Linked DNA regions of Homo sapiens. The protein of the gene in region 5 purifies or fractionates together with the protein of the main gene of each other region. This does not show direct contact. Each region holds a gene or a part of one and is shown on either strand. Other genes may lie near its edges. The genes, in order: ACTR10, PZP, CUEDC1, MYO1D and NEXN.

Region 1 (3,661 bases), on a different chromosome or scaffold from region 5:
TTGAAAAGACAGATACCTAAAAAATTATTTATATTTGATTATATATGGTTTGGAATCTTCTTTAAGCCACATAAAATCAAGAAATTAGGCTGATGGTACTTCTTTTGAAAGAGTAAATGAAGAGAGGTCTGCCAATGATGCATCAGAGTACTGAGAGCTTTCTGAGGATCATAAGTGAAGCCATTGTTATATATTAGCATTGACTTAGCACTCATGGCTTGGTAATATGTGTGTAGGCTGCTTTTGTGCTAATGGTGTTTGTTGTCATTTTTATCACACATATTTATGAACAACCACAACTATGTACCTGGAACTGTATTATTTGAAGAAAGATATATCATAAGCAAGCCAGAAATAGTTCTTGTGCATAGAGCTTATAATCTAGCAGAAAGGGGGACATTTTACAAGTAATTCAGTGTGGCGATGTTGCAAAAGAGAAGATATCAGTGTTTTTGGACTAACAGGGACTGAACCAAGTTGAGTATTTGAGGAAGCCTTTGATGCTTTTTATTCAATGCTGAATTTTTTTTTTTTTTTTTTTTTGAGACAGGTTCTCACTCTGTCACCCAGGCTGGAGTGCAGTGGCACGATCTTGGCTCACTGCAACCTCTGCCTCCCTGCAACCTCCACCTCCTGGGTTCAAGCAGTTCTCCCACTTCAGCCTCCTGAGTAGCTGGGACTACAGGTGCACGCCACCACGCCTAGCTAATTTTTGTATTTTTAGTAGAGATAGGGTTTCACCATGTTGGCCAGGCTGGTCTTGAACTCCTAGCTTCAGGTGATCCACCTGCCTCGGCCTCCCAAAGTGCTGGAAATTTGTTTGTTTGTTTGTTTGTTTGTTTTTTGAGACGGAATCTGGTTCTGTTGCCCAGGCTAGAGAGCAGTGGAGCCATCTCAGCTCACTGCAGCCTCCTCCAGGGTTTTCAAGTGATTCTCCTGCCTCAGTCTCCAGAGTAGCTGGGACTATAGGCACACACCACCACGCCTGGCTAATTTTTGTATTTTAAGTAGAGACAGCGTTTCACCATGTTGGCCAGCCTGGTCTCGAACTCCTGACCTCAAGTGATCCATCCACCTCGGCCTCCCAAAGTGCTGGGATTACAGGCATGAGCCACCACACCTGGCCTCAAAGCTGATTTTTATCATTCAAGCCAAAATGATAAGTCAGATGGAGGAAAAATGCATGTGAGCCATGCTCTTTACTTCCTATGAACACACACTTCCATTACCACAGACTAAAACATTCTGCCATCTTAGACATTCCGATTCTTAAGGATTCCTAATTTAAGAGATTACTCTGTATTTAATTTTTATATTCTCAATACAGATTGCTTTTAATTTATTCCCAGAAAATGTATTAGTAAATAATTACATTTTAATCTTAATTTGAGGTTATTTTATTAATATAAATTAATAAATCATTTTAATTTTTTACAGCCTGTCAGAGTTGTTCAGTATAATATCAATACAGAAGAATTATATTCCTACCTAAAGGAATTCATCCACATACTATATTTCAGGTAAGATACATTTTGTTTTCTAGCTTTTATGATTAGATAGATTTTCCTAATGCCATAGTGATAATTGGTTGTGTTACAGCTGAGGCCAAAAAAAAAAAAAATGGACTTCTATTGCCATTTTTACATGCTTATTTTCAACCTTTTCAAAAATATATTTGAAGACTAGAAAACTGGCAGACATAAAGAGATACTGAAAATGAAATATTCATTAATGAAGTGAACTGATAATTAAATTATTCTACATTCATACAGTGAAATACCATGCAGCTCTTTAAAAAGAGTTCTGCATCTGTATGTAGTAGTACAGGAAGGTGTGTGGGATATATTGATAAGTGAAATAAGCAAGTTAAAGAACCACATCTATGGAATGAGTATTTCTGTTAAAACATACCCCCATACATCCATAAGAATGAAAAAAAATACAAACTTCTATCAGTGATAGTTCTGAGTAGTAGAGATATAAGGTTCTTGTACTTTGCAAGTTTTACGTGTCATAATATTTGGAGCTTTGTGAGCATATATTACTATTGTAACCTAAAAAAAAAGAAAATATCGCCAGGTGCTGTGGCTCACATCTGTAGTACCAGCTACTCAGGAGGTTGAGATCAGGGGATGGCTTGAACCCAGGAGGCTGAGGTTGCAGTGAGGTGAGATTGCCCCTCTGCACTCCAACTTGGGCAACAGAGCCAGATCCTGTCTCAAAAAAAAAAAAAAAATCTATATAATGGCTCAAGTTGGTAATCATAGTAGGCTATAATTTTAGGTTTCTGAGATAAGTAAGTTAATGAATTTCCTAGCACACTGCACGGTACATAGTAAGAGGTCAGAAATGTTATCTTTCTGGGGTAATAAAATGAAGATGTCTTTTTGTGATAAAATATCTTAAGCTAAGGTAGTACAGTTTCACTGTTCTTAAATTGTATGACTTAACAAAATGAATAAAAACTTTTACTTTTAAAACCAAAACTTTCACTTTTCAGGCATCTATTGGTGAATCCCAGAGACCGCCGAGTTGTGATTATCGAATCGGTATTATGTCCTTCTCACTTCAGAGAGACACTCACTCGTGTTCTTTTCAAATATTTTGAGGTACCTGTCTTTATATCAAATAAGTAAATTGCTTTTGAAATAAAAAGAGAAGCAATAAAATTCTTACCAATTTTTAGGGAATCTTTCTTCTCTTTTTTTTTGTTGGTAGGTACTCAAAACTTAAACTAATAAAAGCCCTTATTTTGTCTCATATTGTGTATGGCACACAGTGTAGTTGGGGAACCAGATGACAGAAGATTCTTCAAACTGGCCATTTATTTTCTTCCTTTGTGTGGTTATTTCATGCTTTAGCATTTCATCCAACACTTACATAATTGGATATTTCTTTTTATTACTGTTTATTTATTTTAATATAGGTTTTTCTATTTGGGGACTTTTTTTTATTCAGAATTAAAAGGTATATTCTGTGCTGTGGACTTTGCAATGTATTTCTTCCAGATCTTTCTAGCTTCCATTGTTTAGTTGTACTGTTCTGAATTTTGTCATTTTAGGCTTCAAATTCCTTTAAAATGGAATATTCAGTGCCTCCCTTAGAGTAAGTTGGTAATGCCAGGAATGAGACTTACCTCATAATATAAGTAATATTACCTGTAGCTTTGATTTTATAGGAATCAGGATTATTTTATCACCAAGAATATGTTTTAAGATTAGTATATTTCATAGTAGACCAGAATCTTAATTATTCAAATTTTTAAAAATCTTTGCCTTAAAATTTAGGTTTTATCAGCAAGGGAAAATGTAAGATTATATGTATTAAGTGAATAAGAAATTAAGCACATATAAATGTATTTTCATACATTTACTGAATTCAAAACATACCTAATACCAAAAATCACAATGTCTTTATGAGGTAAAGGCACTTAATATTTCTAAGTTATATTTTTGTAAAGCAGGTACAGGGAATCAGGTTGCATAGCCTCCAGTACCTACTGATGTCATGAGTCCAGGAATTTCATTTGTAGTAAGGAGAACATAAAGCAAAACAAGAAGTCGTGTCAGCTGTTATCTGAATAAAGTAGAATATTCTCTGTATTTATAATTAGAGTTTGTGTTAATATCTTCTATATGACTAGAATACCTACTTTATTTAG
Region 2 (4,237 bases), on a different chromosome or scaffold from region 5:
CATACCACTTATACATATAAAATACAAAACACAAAATTATGCTATATATTATTTACATAAATATGGATTAAAAACATAAACACATCTTGAAGAATACATATCAACTTCCTAATCCCACAACATTGGAAGGGAAATGAGATTGGAGAGAATTACAAAGGAAACTCCAACCATATTTGTCTTGATTTATTTCTTTTTTTGGGTTGGTGGATCTGGTAAAAACTGGAAAAGCTTCTAGACAAATTTTAAAAGAGCACTACCATTGCCATCTTTCATTTCTTAAGAAGAAATGACCTTAAACAAACTTGGCAAGTGTTTAATTTTATTAAAGTTGGGTGCATGTAAGGTACGAGTGTCTTTTATCTTGCTCTCTATATTTGTGAGTATATATATATATAACATTTCATAATTTAAAAGAAATTATTTCATTCTATGATAATGTGACAAAAGAAACAAAGATGTGAAATAAAAACTAATAGGAAGGAATCCACTTTCAGCAGTGTGGCCAGGAATTTGCTCTCCAAAGAAGGGATGATTAGGCTGAAATATGGAGAAAGAGAAAGAAAGTTGATTTAAAAAGTTTCAAGCAATACAGTATGTAAACAGACACCAATGTCTGCAGTCTAAGGATGGCATTAAATCTGCTGGTGGTTTATATGTGATCATCATTGTACTACAAGTTCTATGAGAGCATGGATACTGAATATCCTGTTCAATATTGTATTTTCATCACCAGAATAGCACTTAGCACACAGTATGGCTCAAAAAAAAAATCTCAGATAAAGTCAATGACATGGTTTAAGGGACTCAAACGTTAGAGTGCTCAGACAGTAACAAGGACAGATAGGATCAACTAAGAATCTGATCAGGTCAATGCTGTGAAATAGACAAGTGTGATCTTTGATAACTCCTTTCTAAAATCTCTTTGATCTTTTATCTCTTTTATCTTTCATTGATCCTCTACTCTTGAAATCCTTATTTTATATCACTTTCTTCCAGGACCATGTACTCAATCAACTGCTAAAAAAGAAAACCCAAAAACCCTAAAGTCTATAGTTATAACTCACTCAGTCCCAGAAATGAATCTGCAATGCATGAGCTACTATCATGGTAACATGTCCCTGACATTCTTTGTCAGCATCCTTTGTCACCTGCTTGTAAGGATTTTGAAAGAGATGGAGAAAGGTAGGTTGAAGGTTCCTTATCAGGAGGTTTGCTGTCAAAGCTCATTCTAAATGGAATACAAATTTTATCTTCCAGACATGCCTCAGTACCTATCAGAATTTAGCCTTGAGAAAAATGAGGCAACCACTGAGAGTAATGACCCTTTTAGGGAATCTGTGCTCAATTCTGAACTCTATTCAGAGGCCTTGGGGTGGGGCTTGTTTGTACATAGTGGCCACATAAAGCCTGGTAAACTCAGCTGGTCTCCAGGGCGAGGCTGAGGGCAGAGAGTTGGACACAACCCTGAGATTTATCCCTCACAATGCGGAAAGACAGACTTCTTCATTTATGTCTTGTGCTACTTCTTATCCTGCTTTCTGCCAGTGACTCAAACTCTACAGAACCGTAAGTCTCACTCAAGACCCCTTCCTCCAGAGTGCGTTTCAGTCTCTCCCTTGTGTCTTCGCTTTGCCTTCCTTTGTAAATGCCACCTTTCCACTCATTACAATACCTTCCAAATATAAGAAATTATTCCAGTTAATCCCTTGTTTGTCTTTCATTTATCCTCTATTCTTGAAATCATTTTTTCTACACTGGGCCAATCAGAGTCATAAATACGATTAGTCACTAGGAAGCATGATTAAATAAAACACTAGATCCCAACTTCACAGAACAGTTCTTTTGGATGGAAGGCACTGAATATAGAGATATTCGAAATATATAGTGAAGTGCAACTTAACATGTATTGTAGGCCATATATATATATACAGAAAGTATAGCTCCTTTATTTTTCAATCATGTATCAAGTCTTCACCAACAGCCCCCAGTGGGGGACCAAAGCAGGGAAAATAATTTTAACCCTATCCAGTTGTAAGTTGGTACAACTCAATAATTGTAAGACTTCTTTTCCACCTCTCCCCAGTTCCTCTCCTCTATAGTGTCTAGAGAACTGTGGTCTCCATTAACTCCTAATAGAGAAAACTGTCAGAGTCCTTGGTCTCAAAGTTCTCCGTCCTTCTTGGCTACTGTCAGTCTGACTTCTCCTTACTTGCTGGCATGCACTGTTGAAGTTTAGCCATCTGGTTTCTCTTGTGTGTTCAGGACCCAACAGTCCTCTCTAACTGACTGTCTCACTTCAGCTGTTTCATATCCCATAGAACTCCTACCTTTGCATCCTGCCTCAAATACTATGGCTATTGTTTCAACACAGCCTGTGATGCAGGGTCACCTTGCCCCTTTGCAGTCCAGGCCATTTAAGGTCCCTGGCCTTAACCCAGCTGCCTTTACATTTCTTCCAGAGAATGGTGAGAACTCTTGGGTCCAATAATAGCACATAGGCACTGAGGTGTCCTGGAGAGGTTAAACTTCTACCTCTCTCTTGCATACCCACACTGCACTTCTAGATGCCTATCGTGTCTCCTGTATTCCAGACTGATACAGGGAAGTCTTCAGAGTCCCAAATCGGGAAAGGGATAAGGGGTCCCTCTGCTCTGTGTGTTACCCTTATCCATCTAACACAAATAGCCTTCTTCAGGCCAAAGCGCAGAAAGCAGAAATAAGGAGTTCAATCCAGTAAGTCTCCTGCTTTCCTCAGGCTTTTTCCTTGCACAATTTCCTGGCAACCGGTAGGGGTACATTTCTCCCCCACTATCCCTCTACCTCATCTACAGCAGTGGGCTCTACTACTTCCAGCTGCTCTCCATCCAGAAAGCATATGGGAATATGTGGAGGCTATTTTGCTTTCTGAGAGCAGACTGAATGGATAAAGCGAGTAGCGTGTATTGGGTCAGAAACATTAAGCAATTTGTGGTTCTGGATGCATTCCTACACTACATTGGACCATGCTGCCATTGAAACCATCCTTTTACGTTGTGTCTGCCACTGAACAAAGAACAACAAGCCTCATGCCCTAGTTGTCACAAGCAGAAGGGGTGTTTTCTCCCTTTATAAGGAGAAAACTTAACTTCATCCCTCCAGAATTAACCCTTGATGTGATAAATGTGAGAGACTACAAAAGAGAACCAATAGCCATTCTCCCCTGCCTTGGGGCAGTAAGCTTCAGAAAGATGAAGGTTTCAGGGGAATAAAATGAAAAAGAGAAAATTAAAAGTTATCACTTTAATATTTGCTACATTTAGTCCCTGCTAAAGAGGCAAATATTTAAAATGCAAACATTCATGATTGAGTAAACATATATTAAAACATTTTAGCAGCTCACTACCAATGACATCTTGGGCAAGTTTGTCAACCTGGATTTGTTCTGATTTCAATATCTGTTAAAAAAATATTAACTGAACTCATATAAAATAGTTCTTTAGAATATCAAATATATGTGGAATTAATTTTTAATCGTGATATCTTTTAGGCTTATAATTTATAAGAATAAAAATAGTAAATAAATTATAAATATATATATACCTTCTTATTAAGATCAAAGAACTAAAGGAAAAATTTTTTGATGGGGATGTAAAAAATGATACATTTTTATTATTTATTATGCTGTTAAAAGAGCAGTGATCAGGAGATCAGAAGCATCCAGATACCAGAAAAAGATTAAGACATAAGAGACTAGCTGAATGACTATCAGTGAGTTACTGAACTGCCCTCAGCTTCTCTGCTAGAGAACAAAACCTTACTACTCATACAGTAAAATCATCTGAAACTTGGATGATTTCAGAGTGGCCCTGGAGATTCATGGCATATAGTTTTGCCCAGGAACACTTTAAAACACATGTAGCAAGACTGGTGTGCTGGAGCAGACTACATGGAGGATGAGGGGACCAAATTTGAGTTCCACATTCCACAACTCAATTATCCTTGGATTCTCTCCTCCTAGTCTCACACCTATTAATTTTGTAAAGCAACAATATTGGGTTTCTTGTGTCAAATTGCCTGTCCAGAAAACAATTTAAAAAGTAAGAGTTTATGTTGGCAATGGAAAGTAAGGGTAGTAAAATAATATAAGAAAATAATAGTTTTTACTTGCAAATTTACTCTATAAATGGCCTAACCCTGCAGATATTGAATCATGAATCACTGAATCATTAAAGCTTTGAAGAGTTACATTTTAGTCACA
Region 3 (3,661 bases), on a different chromosome or scaffold from region 5:
TGTAATGTGAGGCAGGGTGTGGGGCTGGGCTGGAGTTGTCAGTCCTTTACATTTTGTGGTCCCCACAAGGATGCTTTCAAAGCTTTGCACTTGGGCCAAATGGAAGCGGCTGCTTGAGCTGCTGTGTCTCCAGTTGCCCAGGCCAGCCCAGCCTCCCCTGGGGCCATGAGGATCAATATTTCCTTACAGAGGGCTGAAAGAATTCCAGGGATTGACATCCAGGTGCTGGGGAAGACCCCCCTAGAATCTCCCTACCCCATCCCCCCTGTGAGGGCAGCTTGGCCAATTTACCCACTGCTCCTGGCTCTTTACCAGCCTCCTGGGGCAATGATAACTCAAATGCAGCATAGCCACGTTCTAGGCAGTGTGCTGAGGATTATCTTATTTCATTCCCATTGAAACCCCCTAAGGGATACATCCAGATGAGGGCTTAGGGCCACGGAGAGGATGGGAGACTTGTCTGAGGTCCCACAGCTGGGGAGTGCGGAGGCCTTGTCTGAACTGGTGCGTGTTCCCTATAAGTGGCAAGAGTGCAAGGCTTCTGGAGCTTCTCAACACTCAGAGAGGCCCAGAACCCGAGGGAGCTGTCCAGAGGGCTGCTAATGGGGAAAATGTCGGTCTTGCCATCTTCTTTCTTCCTCCCCTGGGGGTGGCCCAGGTCATCTTTCTCCGAGGGATTGCCTTTGGCAGAGTGAGACCTGGGTCCCTCCATCTCTGTTAGTAAATTACTGGAGGGGCAGAGAGATGATGGCTTTACTCCAGAAGGCCTTAACACAAGTCACTGACCCCTGTGTGTGATGACACTAGGACAGCAGACAGTAGCCCAAGGCATCAGCTTCTGGGGCCTCCTGGCCCTGAGGTCTGTGTTAGAGGCTTGAGGGCAGGTCCCCAGAGCCCAGGACAAAGGCAGCTGTCAGGGTGGAGCCCAGGCGAAGCTGCATACTCTTCTGATGTGTGTGGGTTCGTGGAGATGTGGGTGTAGGGGTGTTGGGGTGTCTAAAGCCGGCTATGGGAAGCCATGTCATACTTGGCTACCTTCCTATGTTCCTTCTCACAGCAAAACTCTTGGACTGATCATTTGAAGTCACCCCTCTGTGTCTTCTTGTGAAATGGCTTGGGCGTCTCTGGGCTCTGACTTGCTCATCTGGGAAGAGATGGGGTAGAGGGAGTTGGATTATAAATCATGCTTCACTCAGTCAACAGAATGCTACTCAGGCACTAAAAATGATGGCGTAGCCCTACGTATTCTGACATGGGAAGATGGCCACAATATCTTATTATGTGGAAAAAACTAGTTGCATAGGATTTATGGTTTGATTACATTTTAGTAAAATAAATTCATTTATGGTGGTATATGCAAAGAAAAAATAATGCCGGGCGCAGTGGCTCACGCCTGTAATCCCAGCACTTTGGGAGGCTGAGGCAGGTGGATCACTTGAGGCCAGGAGGTTGAGACCAGCCTGGCCAACATGGTAAAACCCCATTTCCATTAAAAATACAAAAATTAGCACCAAGCGTGGTGGCACGTGCCTGTAGTCCCAGCTACTCAGGAGGCTGAGATGGGAGACTTGCTTGAACCTGGAAGGTGGAGGTTGCGGTGAGCCAAGATCACGCCACTGCACTCCGGCCTGGGCTACAGCCAGACTCTGTCTCAAAAAAAAAAAAAAAAAAAAAAGAGAAAAAGAAAAAGAAAAGAAAAAATCGAGATGTAGACACACTAAAGTGTGAACAGATTTTCTCAGGGGTTGATGTACTCACAAAAACATCTTGGCCAAGCATTGAAGCTCATGCCTGTAATCCCAGCACTTTGGGAGACCAAGGTGGGCAGATCACCTGACGTCAGGAGTTTGAGAACAGCCTGACCAACATGGCAAAACCCCATCTGTATTAAAAATACAAAAAAAAAAAAAAAAAAAAAGCCAGGCGTGGTGGCGTGTACCTGTAGTCCCAGCTACTCGAGAGGCTGAGGCAGGAGAACTGCTTGAACCTGGGAGGCAGAGGTTGCAGTGAACCAAGATCACAGCACTGTACTCCAGCCTGGGCGACAAAGTGAGACCGAAAAAAAAAAAAAAATTTCTGTATCAGCTGTTAAGATTGTGACTCCAAGTCCTAGAAAAGTGAAAACAAGTTTGCACCTGTTTCATCAAACTCAAGGATATTATTTGATGGAATTGTCCCTTAAAATAAAGCTGCCACTGTCAGAAGTTGGTGTTTAGGCGCATTCCATTCCCAGTGGTCTGTGCTAACAGAAATGCAACCTTGGCAGTGATTTACATGCCTGGGTTTGAGTGGGCCGGGTGGTTTTCTGTGGCAGATTAAGGTCCCTCATTGTGCTTGATTTTCAGTTCCACCTATACATGTTGTCAGGACACTGTGCTGACCCTGGGGGCTGAGGGACACACATTGGCTGGGGCAGGAGAACTGGGCTTGGTGGGGATAAGAACAGAATTTATGGCCGGGCACGGTGGCTCACGCCTGTAATCCCAGCACTTTGGGAGGCCGAGGCGGGCAGATCACGAGGTCAGGAGATCGAGACCATCCTGGCTAACATGGTGAAACCCTGTCTCTACTAAAAATACAAAAAAAAATTAGCCGGGTGTGGTGGCGGGCGCCTGTAGTCCCAGCTACTCGGGAGGCTGAGGCAGGAGAATGGTGTGAACCCGGGAAGCGGAGTTTGCAGTGAACCGAGATCGTGCCGCTGCACTCCAGCCTGGGTGACAGAGCGAGACTCCGTCTCAAAAAAAAAAAAAAAAAAACAACCAGAATTTATGATGTATATGGTTTCTCAAGACAACTTTGAGAAAAAACTTCTAGAATTTTTAAAAATATGTAAGGACACTGAGTGTTCCATAAGAACAAACGTGTCTGTGATATAAATAAAACATGTCGGCCTGACATTGGGGTAAGGAAAATGAACTCCAGGGGTTGACAATGGCCTTGCATCTCTCTTTTGGGCTGGTGCTTCTCAGGGGAATGGACTGAGTTTTAGGGCCTGACATGAGTTTTCCAAGAGTGGGAACTGGGCCTCCCCTATTAGCCCGAGGCTCTGCAAGGATGAAACCCTGTTTCCTCTCTCAGGCTGGAAGCTCCCGGTGACACTGGAGGGTCCCGCTTCTCATCACTGCTGTCCCCGGGGTTCGATGGAGCTCTGCACAAGATTCCTGCCCTGGTGGTGGGACCACGATGTTGGGGCAGTGATGTGGGAAGATGAGAACAGGGACTAGAGATCAGAGAGGCAGGACATCTTTAAAGAGCCCCTCCTGCCTCACTCAGGTCTTCAGGGGTCTTTGGCAGTATGTGTAATGGTAGAGACCAGTGACTTGAGGGCCATATGTCCCAGATTCAAATCCTGGCTCCTCCACTAACTCAGCGTCTATACCTCACTTTTCCCATCTGCAACATGGGCATACTAGCACATACCTTACAGTATTGTCATGAGTTGGCCCACATAGAGCACTTAGGATGGCACCTGGGTCGGAGGAATCCCTTGCTAACTGGTGGCTGTCCTGTGCTAGTAAAGAACTGTGGGGATTTCATTACTGAAGCCGGGGAGAAAGCATGAGGAAGAAGCAAGCCTCCCTTGCCCGTGGTAGGGGTCGCGGTTCCCTGCCCTCATTTCTTAGTAGCCCTTGGCCGCCACCCTGAGCTCATGTTTTGTTAG
Region 4 (3,661 bases), on a different chromosome or scaffold from region 5:
GAGTGAAGGAAAAAATTATTCTCTCTGTCTCTCTCACTTGCCCCCCACCTCGCAGATAAACATCCACACTAAAGGAGAGGTACATGGGGTCTTAGGGAAATTTAATCTATGCAGTGCTCAGGAAGGTTAGGGAAGGCCTCTCTGGGAAAGTGATACTTGAGACCAGAAGGATGAGTAAGAGGTAGCCAAGCAAGAGAGGAGAGAAGAGCAGTCCAAGCAGAGGGAACAGATGTGCACAGGCCCTGTGACTGGAAGGAGAAAGGGATCAGGATAATCTGTGAGGACTGAGAGAAGACTAATGTGCTGGGCTGAAGAAAGGGGGGCTGGGTATAGTATAAAATGAGGTGGGAGAGGTGGGCTGGAGCCAGACCATGTTAAAGTATTATTCTTGCTTCTCTCATTCTCCACATAATAGGTCCTATGGATTTTATTTTCTCAACACAGTCCATTTCAAATCATCCTCCTCTCCCCATTTGTACTTTCACTTTTCTGATTCAAGCTGCCCTCATCTCTTTCCTGGATTAACAAAATATCCCCTTAATTGACCTCTTTGCTTCCATTCTTACTCTAGCCCCCATAACATTCTCCATACTAAGGCCAGAGTGATCATTTTAAAAATGCAAACTTGCCAGGTGCAGTGGCTCATGCCTGTAATCCCAACACTCTGGGAAGCTGAGGTGGGCAGATCACCTGAGGTCAGGAGTTTGAGACCAGCCTGGCCAACATGATGAGACCCCATCTCTACTAAAAATACAAAAATTAGCCAGGCATGGTGGCGGGTGCCTGTAATCCTAGCTACTCAGGAGGCTGAGGCAGGAGAATTGCTTGAACCCGGGAGGTGGAGGTTGCAGTGAGCTGAGATCATACCATTGCACTCCAGCCTGGGTGACAGAGAGACACCGTCTCAAAAAAAAAAGAAAAAAAAAAAAAGACAAAAAAACGGCCGGGTGCGGTGGCTCACACCTAATCCCAGCACTTTGGGAGGCCGAGGAGGGTGGATCACAAGGTCAGGAGATGGAGACCATCCTGGCTAACATGGTGAAACCCTGTCTCTACTAAAAATATAAAAAATTAGCTGGGCGTGGTGGCGGTCGCCTGTAGTTCCAGCTACTTGGGAGGCTGAGGCAGGAGAATGGCATGAACCCGGAAGGCAGAGCTTGCAGTGAGCTGAGATTGTGCCACTGCACTCCAGCTTGGGCAACAAAGCGAGACTCCATCTCAAAAAAAAAAAAAGGCAAACTTGATGTCATTGCCCCTCCTTAAAGTCCTCCCTATTGCTCTCCATTGCACTTAGGAAAAATTCAAATTCCCCCAAAACTAAAAACCAAGCCTAAGACTTACAAGAGTAAAAAATGAAATAGACAGTAAACTAATCAACCAGCAAAACAACAACAACGAAAGTTAGACGTGAGAAAATACAACGCTTGCCACACAGATAACAAAGGGTTAAAGTTTATGATATGCTAAGAACACTTAGAAATTGACAATAAAAAGATAACAGCTCCAAAGAAAAATGCACAAAAGATATACCCAGGCAATTCTTAGAATATGTTAAAATACTCTACAAAAATATGATAAGATGCTCAAATATACTAGTAATGAAATAAAAGTAACAATAAAATATTACCATGCAGCCATAAAATCAGTAAATTTAAAGTTTAAAATAAATATATGGCAGGTGCGGTGGCTCACGCCTGTAATCCCAGCACTTTGGGAGGCCAAGGCAGGTAGATCGCTTGAGGTCAGGAGTCCGAGACCAGCCTGGTCAACATGGTGAAACCTTGTCTCTACTAAAAATACAAAAATTAGCTGGGCGTGGTGGCACACTCCTGTAATCCCAGCTACTTGGGAGGCTGAGACAGGAGAATCACTTGAACCCGGGAGGTGGAGGTTGCAGTGAGCCAAGATTGTGCCACTGCACTCCAGCCTGGATGGCAGAGCAAGACTCCGTCTCAAAAAATAAAAATAAAATAAGTATACCCTTTGACCTGGCAAGCTCACTCCTGGGAATCCATCCAGCTGAAACAAAAGCACTAGTATATAAGCATAGATGTATAAAGACGTGCAGCATTGTTTGCAGTTGCAAAAAAGGGAAGTAAAGTGGGTGACTTAAGAGTAAGGTGGTTAAATAAATTGTGGTACTATCACTGCAGGCTTAGTACACAGCCCTGGAGGACATTATGCTAAGTGAAATAAGCCAGGCACAAAAAGACAAATATTGTGTGATCTCACCTATATGCAATCTGAAAAAGTCAAACTCATAGAAGCAGAGAATAGAATGGTGATTACCAGAGGCTAGAGGAGCGGGGTGGATGGAGAAAGTGTGAGACGTTAGTCAAAGGGTAAAGTTTCAGTTAGACAGGAAGAATAATTTGTGGTGATCCACTGCAAAGCGTGGTGACTGTTAATAATAATACTAATAATATTGTTTCAAATTGCTAAGAGTGGATTTTAAATGTTCTCACCACAAATAAATGGTAAGTAGGTGAGGTAAGAGGTATGCTAATTAGTCTGATCTGATCATTCCATAATGTGTACATGTCCTGAAATATCCCACTGTACCCATAAACATATACAATTATTGTCAATTAAAAATAAATAAAACTTAAAAAAAATGGATCAGAGCTCAGTCAGTTGACTCTGGCGAAGCATTATTGAGTGAGAGAAGCAGCACGTGAAGCCCTCATGAGCGCCACCCCCAGTCAGCTTCCACTCTTCTCAGAACCTTTTTTGGCAGTGATGCTTACTTACATCTGGGAGTTTTACCGAGGCTTGTATGGCCAGAAAGTATCATTATGGTTTCTAAAAGCCTTAACCCTCTTTCAAGAATGTCTGAATACATGCTCACAGGATTTCACTCAATTTGCAACTGCGATCAACACCAGGTGACATAGGGTCAGTTACACTCTCACCTTGGCAAAGGCGTCTCTGCCGTAGCTGGCCTCTTGTTCTGTGTGCTGCTTGTCAATGATGTCACGGCCTGTGGCCACAGTCCGGTAAAGAAGGGCTTTCTCAACCATATCTGTCTTAGTAGAGAGCAATTCTGCTATGATAGATACTACTTTGCCATTCTCAATAAGAGGCGTGTCACCATCTACTACAAATTTTAAATTTCCCTGTATCAAAAGTGAAAAAAATAACACATTATGAAACATTATGTCAAGGATATATTTGCCAATATAAAATACAATTCAGGTGACCTTGTTTGTACCTATTTTCCTAAATACATTATACATCTCAACATATAAAAACAGTGTTTCATCTACTTTTTCCCTTTCTCCGGACACTCATCTATCTTTTTGCTTTCAGTGTATGTTTTTGATAGATAAAAGTTTTACATTTTTATGTAATCGAATCTATGAATCTTTTGCCTTAGGGTCTCTCTTTCTTTGGTGTCATACTTAGACCATTCCTACTCCAAAGGGTTTATGAGCATTTGATGCTTTCCTCTAATGCTTTTATAGTTTTTGTTTTCCTTAAACTTTTTATTTTATTTATTTATTTATTTTTGAGACAGAGTCTCGCTCTGTCGCCCAGGCTGGAGTGCAAGTGGTGCGATCTTGGCTCACTGCAAGCTCTGCCTCCTGGGTTCACGCCATTCTCCTGCCTCAGCCTCCTGAAGAGCTGGGACTACAGGTGCCTGACACCACGCCCAGCTAAT
Region 5 (3,661 bases):
GCCTCAGCCTCCCAAAGTGCTAGGATTACAGGCGTGAGCCACCATCCATGGCCAGCCTATAGTGTAATTTTTTTTTTTTTTTTTTTTTTTTTTTTTTTTTGAGATGGAGTCTCATTCTGTTGCCTAGGCTGGAGTGCAGTGGCACAATCTCAGCTCACTGCAAACTCCGCCTCCCAGATTCACACCATTCTCCTGCCTCAGCCTCCCGAGTAGCTGGGACTACAGGCACCCGCCACCATGATTGGCTAATTTTTTTGTATTTTTAGTAGAGATGGGGTTTCGCCGTGTTAGCCAGGATGGTCTCGATCTCCTGACCTCTTGATCCGCCCGCCTTGGCCTCTGAAAGTGCTGGGATTACAGGCATGAGCCACCGCGCCCGGTCACCTATAGTGTAATTTTTAAAGTATAAGGTTGCAACCTTCATTAATTAAATGCAATAAAGTTACATTATACCTAAGTTTATGTTTCCTGTACAAGTGAAAAATGATAAAAATTTAGGCTCATATTTTATGAAGCTCAAAACAATTTTGTTGCTTGTTCCAAAGACTGTAAGAATTAGGTTTCAACATTTACTTGTAGCATATAGTTAAGTATTACGTTTAAAATCTTCTTAAAAGTTGGCTGGGCACTGTGGCTCACGCCTGTAATTCCAGCACTTTGGGGGTGCAAGGCAGGCGGATCTCTTGAGGCCAGGAGTTAGAGATCAGTCTGGTCAACATGGTGAAACCCCATCTCTGCTAAAAAATACAAAAATTAGCCGGGTGTGGTAGTGCACACCTGTAATCCCAGCTACTTAGGAGGCTGAGGCATGAGAATCACTTGAACCTGGGAGGTGGAGGTTGCAGTGAGCTGAGATAGTGCCATTGCACTCCAGCCTGGGCGACAGAGCAAGACTCCATCTCAAAAAAGAAATCTTAAAAGTTGACAGCCTGGTTGGGCACAGTGGCTCACATCTGTAATCCCAGCACTTTGGTAGGCTTAGGTGAGCAGATCACTTGAGGTCAGGAGTTGGAGACCAGCTTGGCCAACATGGTGAAACCCTGTCTGTACTAAAAAAAATTAGCCAGGTGTGGTTGCATGTGCCTGTAATCCCAGCTATTCGGGAGGCTGAGGCAGGAGAATTGCTTGAACCCAGGAGGCAAAGGTTGCAGTGAGCAGAAATGACACCACTGCTCTCCAGCTTGGGTGACACAGTGAGACTTTGTCTCAATAAATAAATAAATAAATAAATAAATAAGTTGTCGGCCAAGCACAGTGACTCAGAAACTGAGCTCATTTTCTGACTTAAACATGCCTTTTAATTTAATCTCCAGTTAATGGTAACCCTGTTCACCCATTTGCTCAAACTAGAAACCTTGGGTTCATCCTTTTTTATTTACTTGTTTGTTTGTTTATTTCTCATCCTCTGACTCTTGCTTGGGTTCATTCTTGACAATATTCCTCTCCTCACCTCTACCCCTCCAAATCAAATTGGCCAAACCTCTTGCAATTGTGCCCCACTACAGTGTAAGTTCCATCAAGAAGGCTGGGCATGGTGGCTCACACCTGTAATCCCAGCACTTTGGGAGCCCGAGGCGGGTGGAGCTCAGGAGTTCAAGGCCAGCCTGGCCAATATGGTGAAACCCCATCCCTACTAAAAATACAAAAATTAGCTGAGTGTGGTGGCAGACAGTTGTAATCCCAGCTACTCGGGAGGCTGAGGCACAGAACTGCTTGAACCTGGGAGGCAGAGGTTGCAGTGAGCTGAGATTGCACCACTGCACTCCAGCCTGGGTGACAGAGCAAGACTCTGTCTAATTAAAAAAAAAAAAATTTAGAAAAGAGAGAAGAATCAAATAGATGCAATAAAAAATGATAAAGGGGATATCACCACCGATCCCACAGAAATACAAACTACCATCAGAGAATACTACAAACACCTCTACGCAAATAAACTAGAAAATCTAGAAGAAATGGATAAATTCCTCAACACATACACCCTCCCAAGACTAAACCAGGAAGAAGTTGAATCTCTGAATAGACCAATAACAGGCTCTGAAGTTGTGGCAATAATCAATAGCTTACCAACCAAAAAAAGTCCAGGACCAGATGGATTCACAGCCGAATTCTACCGAGGTACAAAGAAGAGCTGGTACCATTCCTTCTGAAACTATTCCAATCAATAGGAAAAGAGGGACTCCTCTCTAACTCATTTTATGAGGCCAGCATCATCCTGATACCAAAGCCTGGCAGAGACACAACCAAAAAAGAGAATTTTAGACCAATATCCTTGATGAACATTGATGCAAAAATCCTCAATAAAATACTGGCAAACTGAATCCAGCAGCACATCAAAAAGCTTATCCACCATGATCAAGTGGGCTTCATCCCTGGGATGTGAGGCTGGTTCAATATACGCAAATCAATAAATGTAATCCAGCATATAAACAGAACCAAAGACAAAAACCACATGATTATTTCAATAGATGCAGAAAAGGCCTTTGACAAAATTCAACAATGCTTCATGCTAAAAACTCTCAATAAATTAGGTATTGATGGGATGTATCTCAAAATAATAAGAGCTATCTATGACAAACCCACAGCCAATATCATACTGAATGGACAAAAACTGGAAGCATTCCCTTTGAAAACTGGCACAAGACAGGGATGCCCTCTCTCACCACTCCTATTCAACATAGTGTTGGAAGTTCTGGCCAGGGCAATTAGGCAGGAGAAGGAAATAAAGGGTATTCAATTAGGAAAAGAGAAAGTCAAATTGTCCCTGTTTGCAGATGACATGATTGTATATGTAGAAAACCCCACTGTCTCAGCCCAAAATCTCCTTAAGCTGATAAGCAACTTCAGCAAAGTCTCAGGATACAAAATCAATGTGCAAAAATCACAAGCATTCTTATACACCAATAACAGACAAACAGAGAGCCAAATCATGAGTGAACTCCCATTCACAATTGCTTCAAAGAGAATAAAATACCTAGGAATCCAACTTACAAGGGAAGTGAAGGACCTCTTCAAGGAGAACTACAAACCACTGCTCAATGAAATAAAAGAGGATACAAACAAATGGAAGAACATTCCATGCTCATGCATAGGAAGAATCAATATCATGAAAATGGCCATACTGCCCAAGGTAATTTATAGATTCAATGCCATCCCCATCAAGCTACCAATGACTTTCTTCACGGAATTGGAAAAAACTACTTTAAAGTTCATATGGAACCAAAAAAGAACCCGCATCACCAAGCCAATCCTAAGCCAAAAGAACAAAGCTGGAGGCATCACGCTACCTGACTTCAAACTATACTACAAGGCTACAGTAACCAAAACAGCACGGTACTGGTACCAAAACAGAGATATAGATCAATGGAACAGGACAGAGCCCTCAGAAATAATGCCACATATCTACAACTATCTGATCTTTGACAAACCTGAGAAAAACAAGCAATGGGGAAAGGATTCCCTATTTAATAAATGGTGCTGGGAAAACTGGCTAGCCATATGTAGAAAGCTGAAACTGGATCCCTTCCTTATACCTTGTAGAAAAATTAATTCAAGATGGATTAAATACTTAAATGTTAGACCTAAAAGCATAAAAACCCTAGAAGAAAACCTAGGCAATACCATTCAGGACACAGGCATGGGCAAGGACTTCATGTCTAAAACA

The links.
Region 1: the proteins of NEXN (region 5) and ACTR10 purify together in Homo sapiens (affinity purification with mass spectrometry; 2 studies listed by BioGRID and IntAct, with this or other methods). This does not show direct contact.
Region 2: the proteins of NEXN (region 5) and PZP fractionate together in Homo sapiens (co-fractionation; one large-scale study listed by BioGRID). This does not show direct contact.
Region 3: the proteins of NEXN (region 5) and CUEDC1 purify together in Homo sapiens (co-immunoprecipitation; one large-scale study listed by IntAct). This does not show direct contact.
Region 4: the proteins of NEXN (region 5) and MYO1D purify together in Homo sapiens (affinity purification with mass spectrometry; one large-scale study listed by BioGRID and IntAct). This does not show direct contact.

What each region holds. Positions count from the first base shown.
Region 1 is NC_000014.9:58,206,499-58,210,159, forward strand, and holds part of ACTR10 (actin-related protein 10), read left to right. Parts: intron 1-1,437; coding exon 1,438-1,520; intron 1,521-2,500; coding exon 2,501-2,609; intron 2,610-3,661. UniProt on the Homo sapiens protein: Part of the dynactin complex that activates the molecular motor dynein for ultra-processive transport along microtubules.
Region 2 is NC_000012.12:9,205,588-9,209,824, reverse strand, and holds the start of PZP (pregnancy zone protein precursor), read left to right. Parts: upstream 1-1,429; 5' UTR 1,430-1,483; coding exon 1,484-1,566; intron 1,567-4,237. UniProt on the Homo sapiens protein: Is able to inhibit all four classes of proteinases by a unique 'trapping' mechanism. This protein has a peptide stretch, called the 'bait region' which contains specific cleavage sites for different proteinases.
Region 3 is NC_000017.11:57,885,913-57,889,573, reverse strand, and holds part of CUEDC1 (CUE domain-containing protein 1), read left to right. Parts: intron 1-3,661.
Region 4 is NC_000017.11:32,761,966-32,765,626, forward strand, and holds part of MYO1D (unconventional myosin-Id), read right to left. Parts: intron 3,117-3,661; coding exon 2,913-3,116; intron 1-2,912. UniProt on the Homo sapiens protein: Unconventional myosin that functions as actin-based motor protein with ATPase activity. Plays a role in endosomal protein trafficking, and especially in the transfer of cargo proteins from early to recycling endosomes.
Region 5 is NC_000001.11:77,894,963-77,898,623, forward strand, and holds part of NEXN (nexilin), read left to right. Parts: intron 1-3,661. UniProt on the Homo sapiens protein: Involved in regulating cell migration through association with the actin cytoskeleton. Has an essential role in the maintenance of Z line and sarcomere integrity.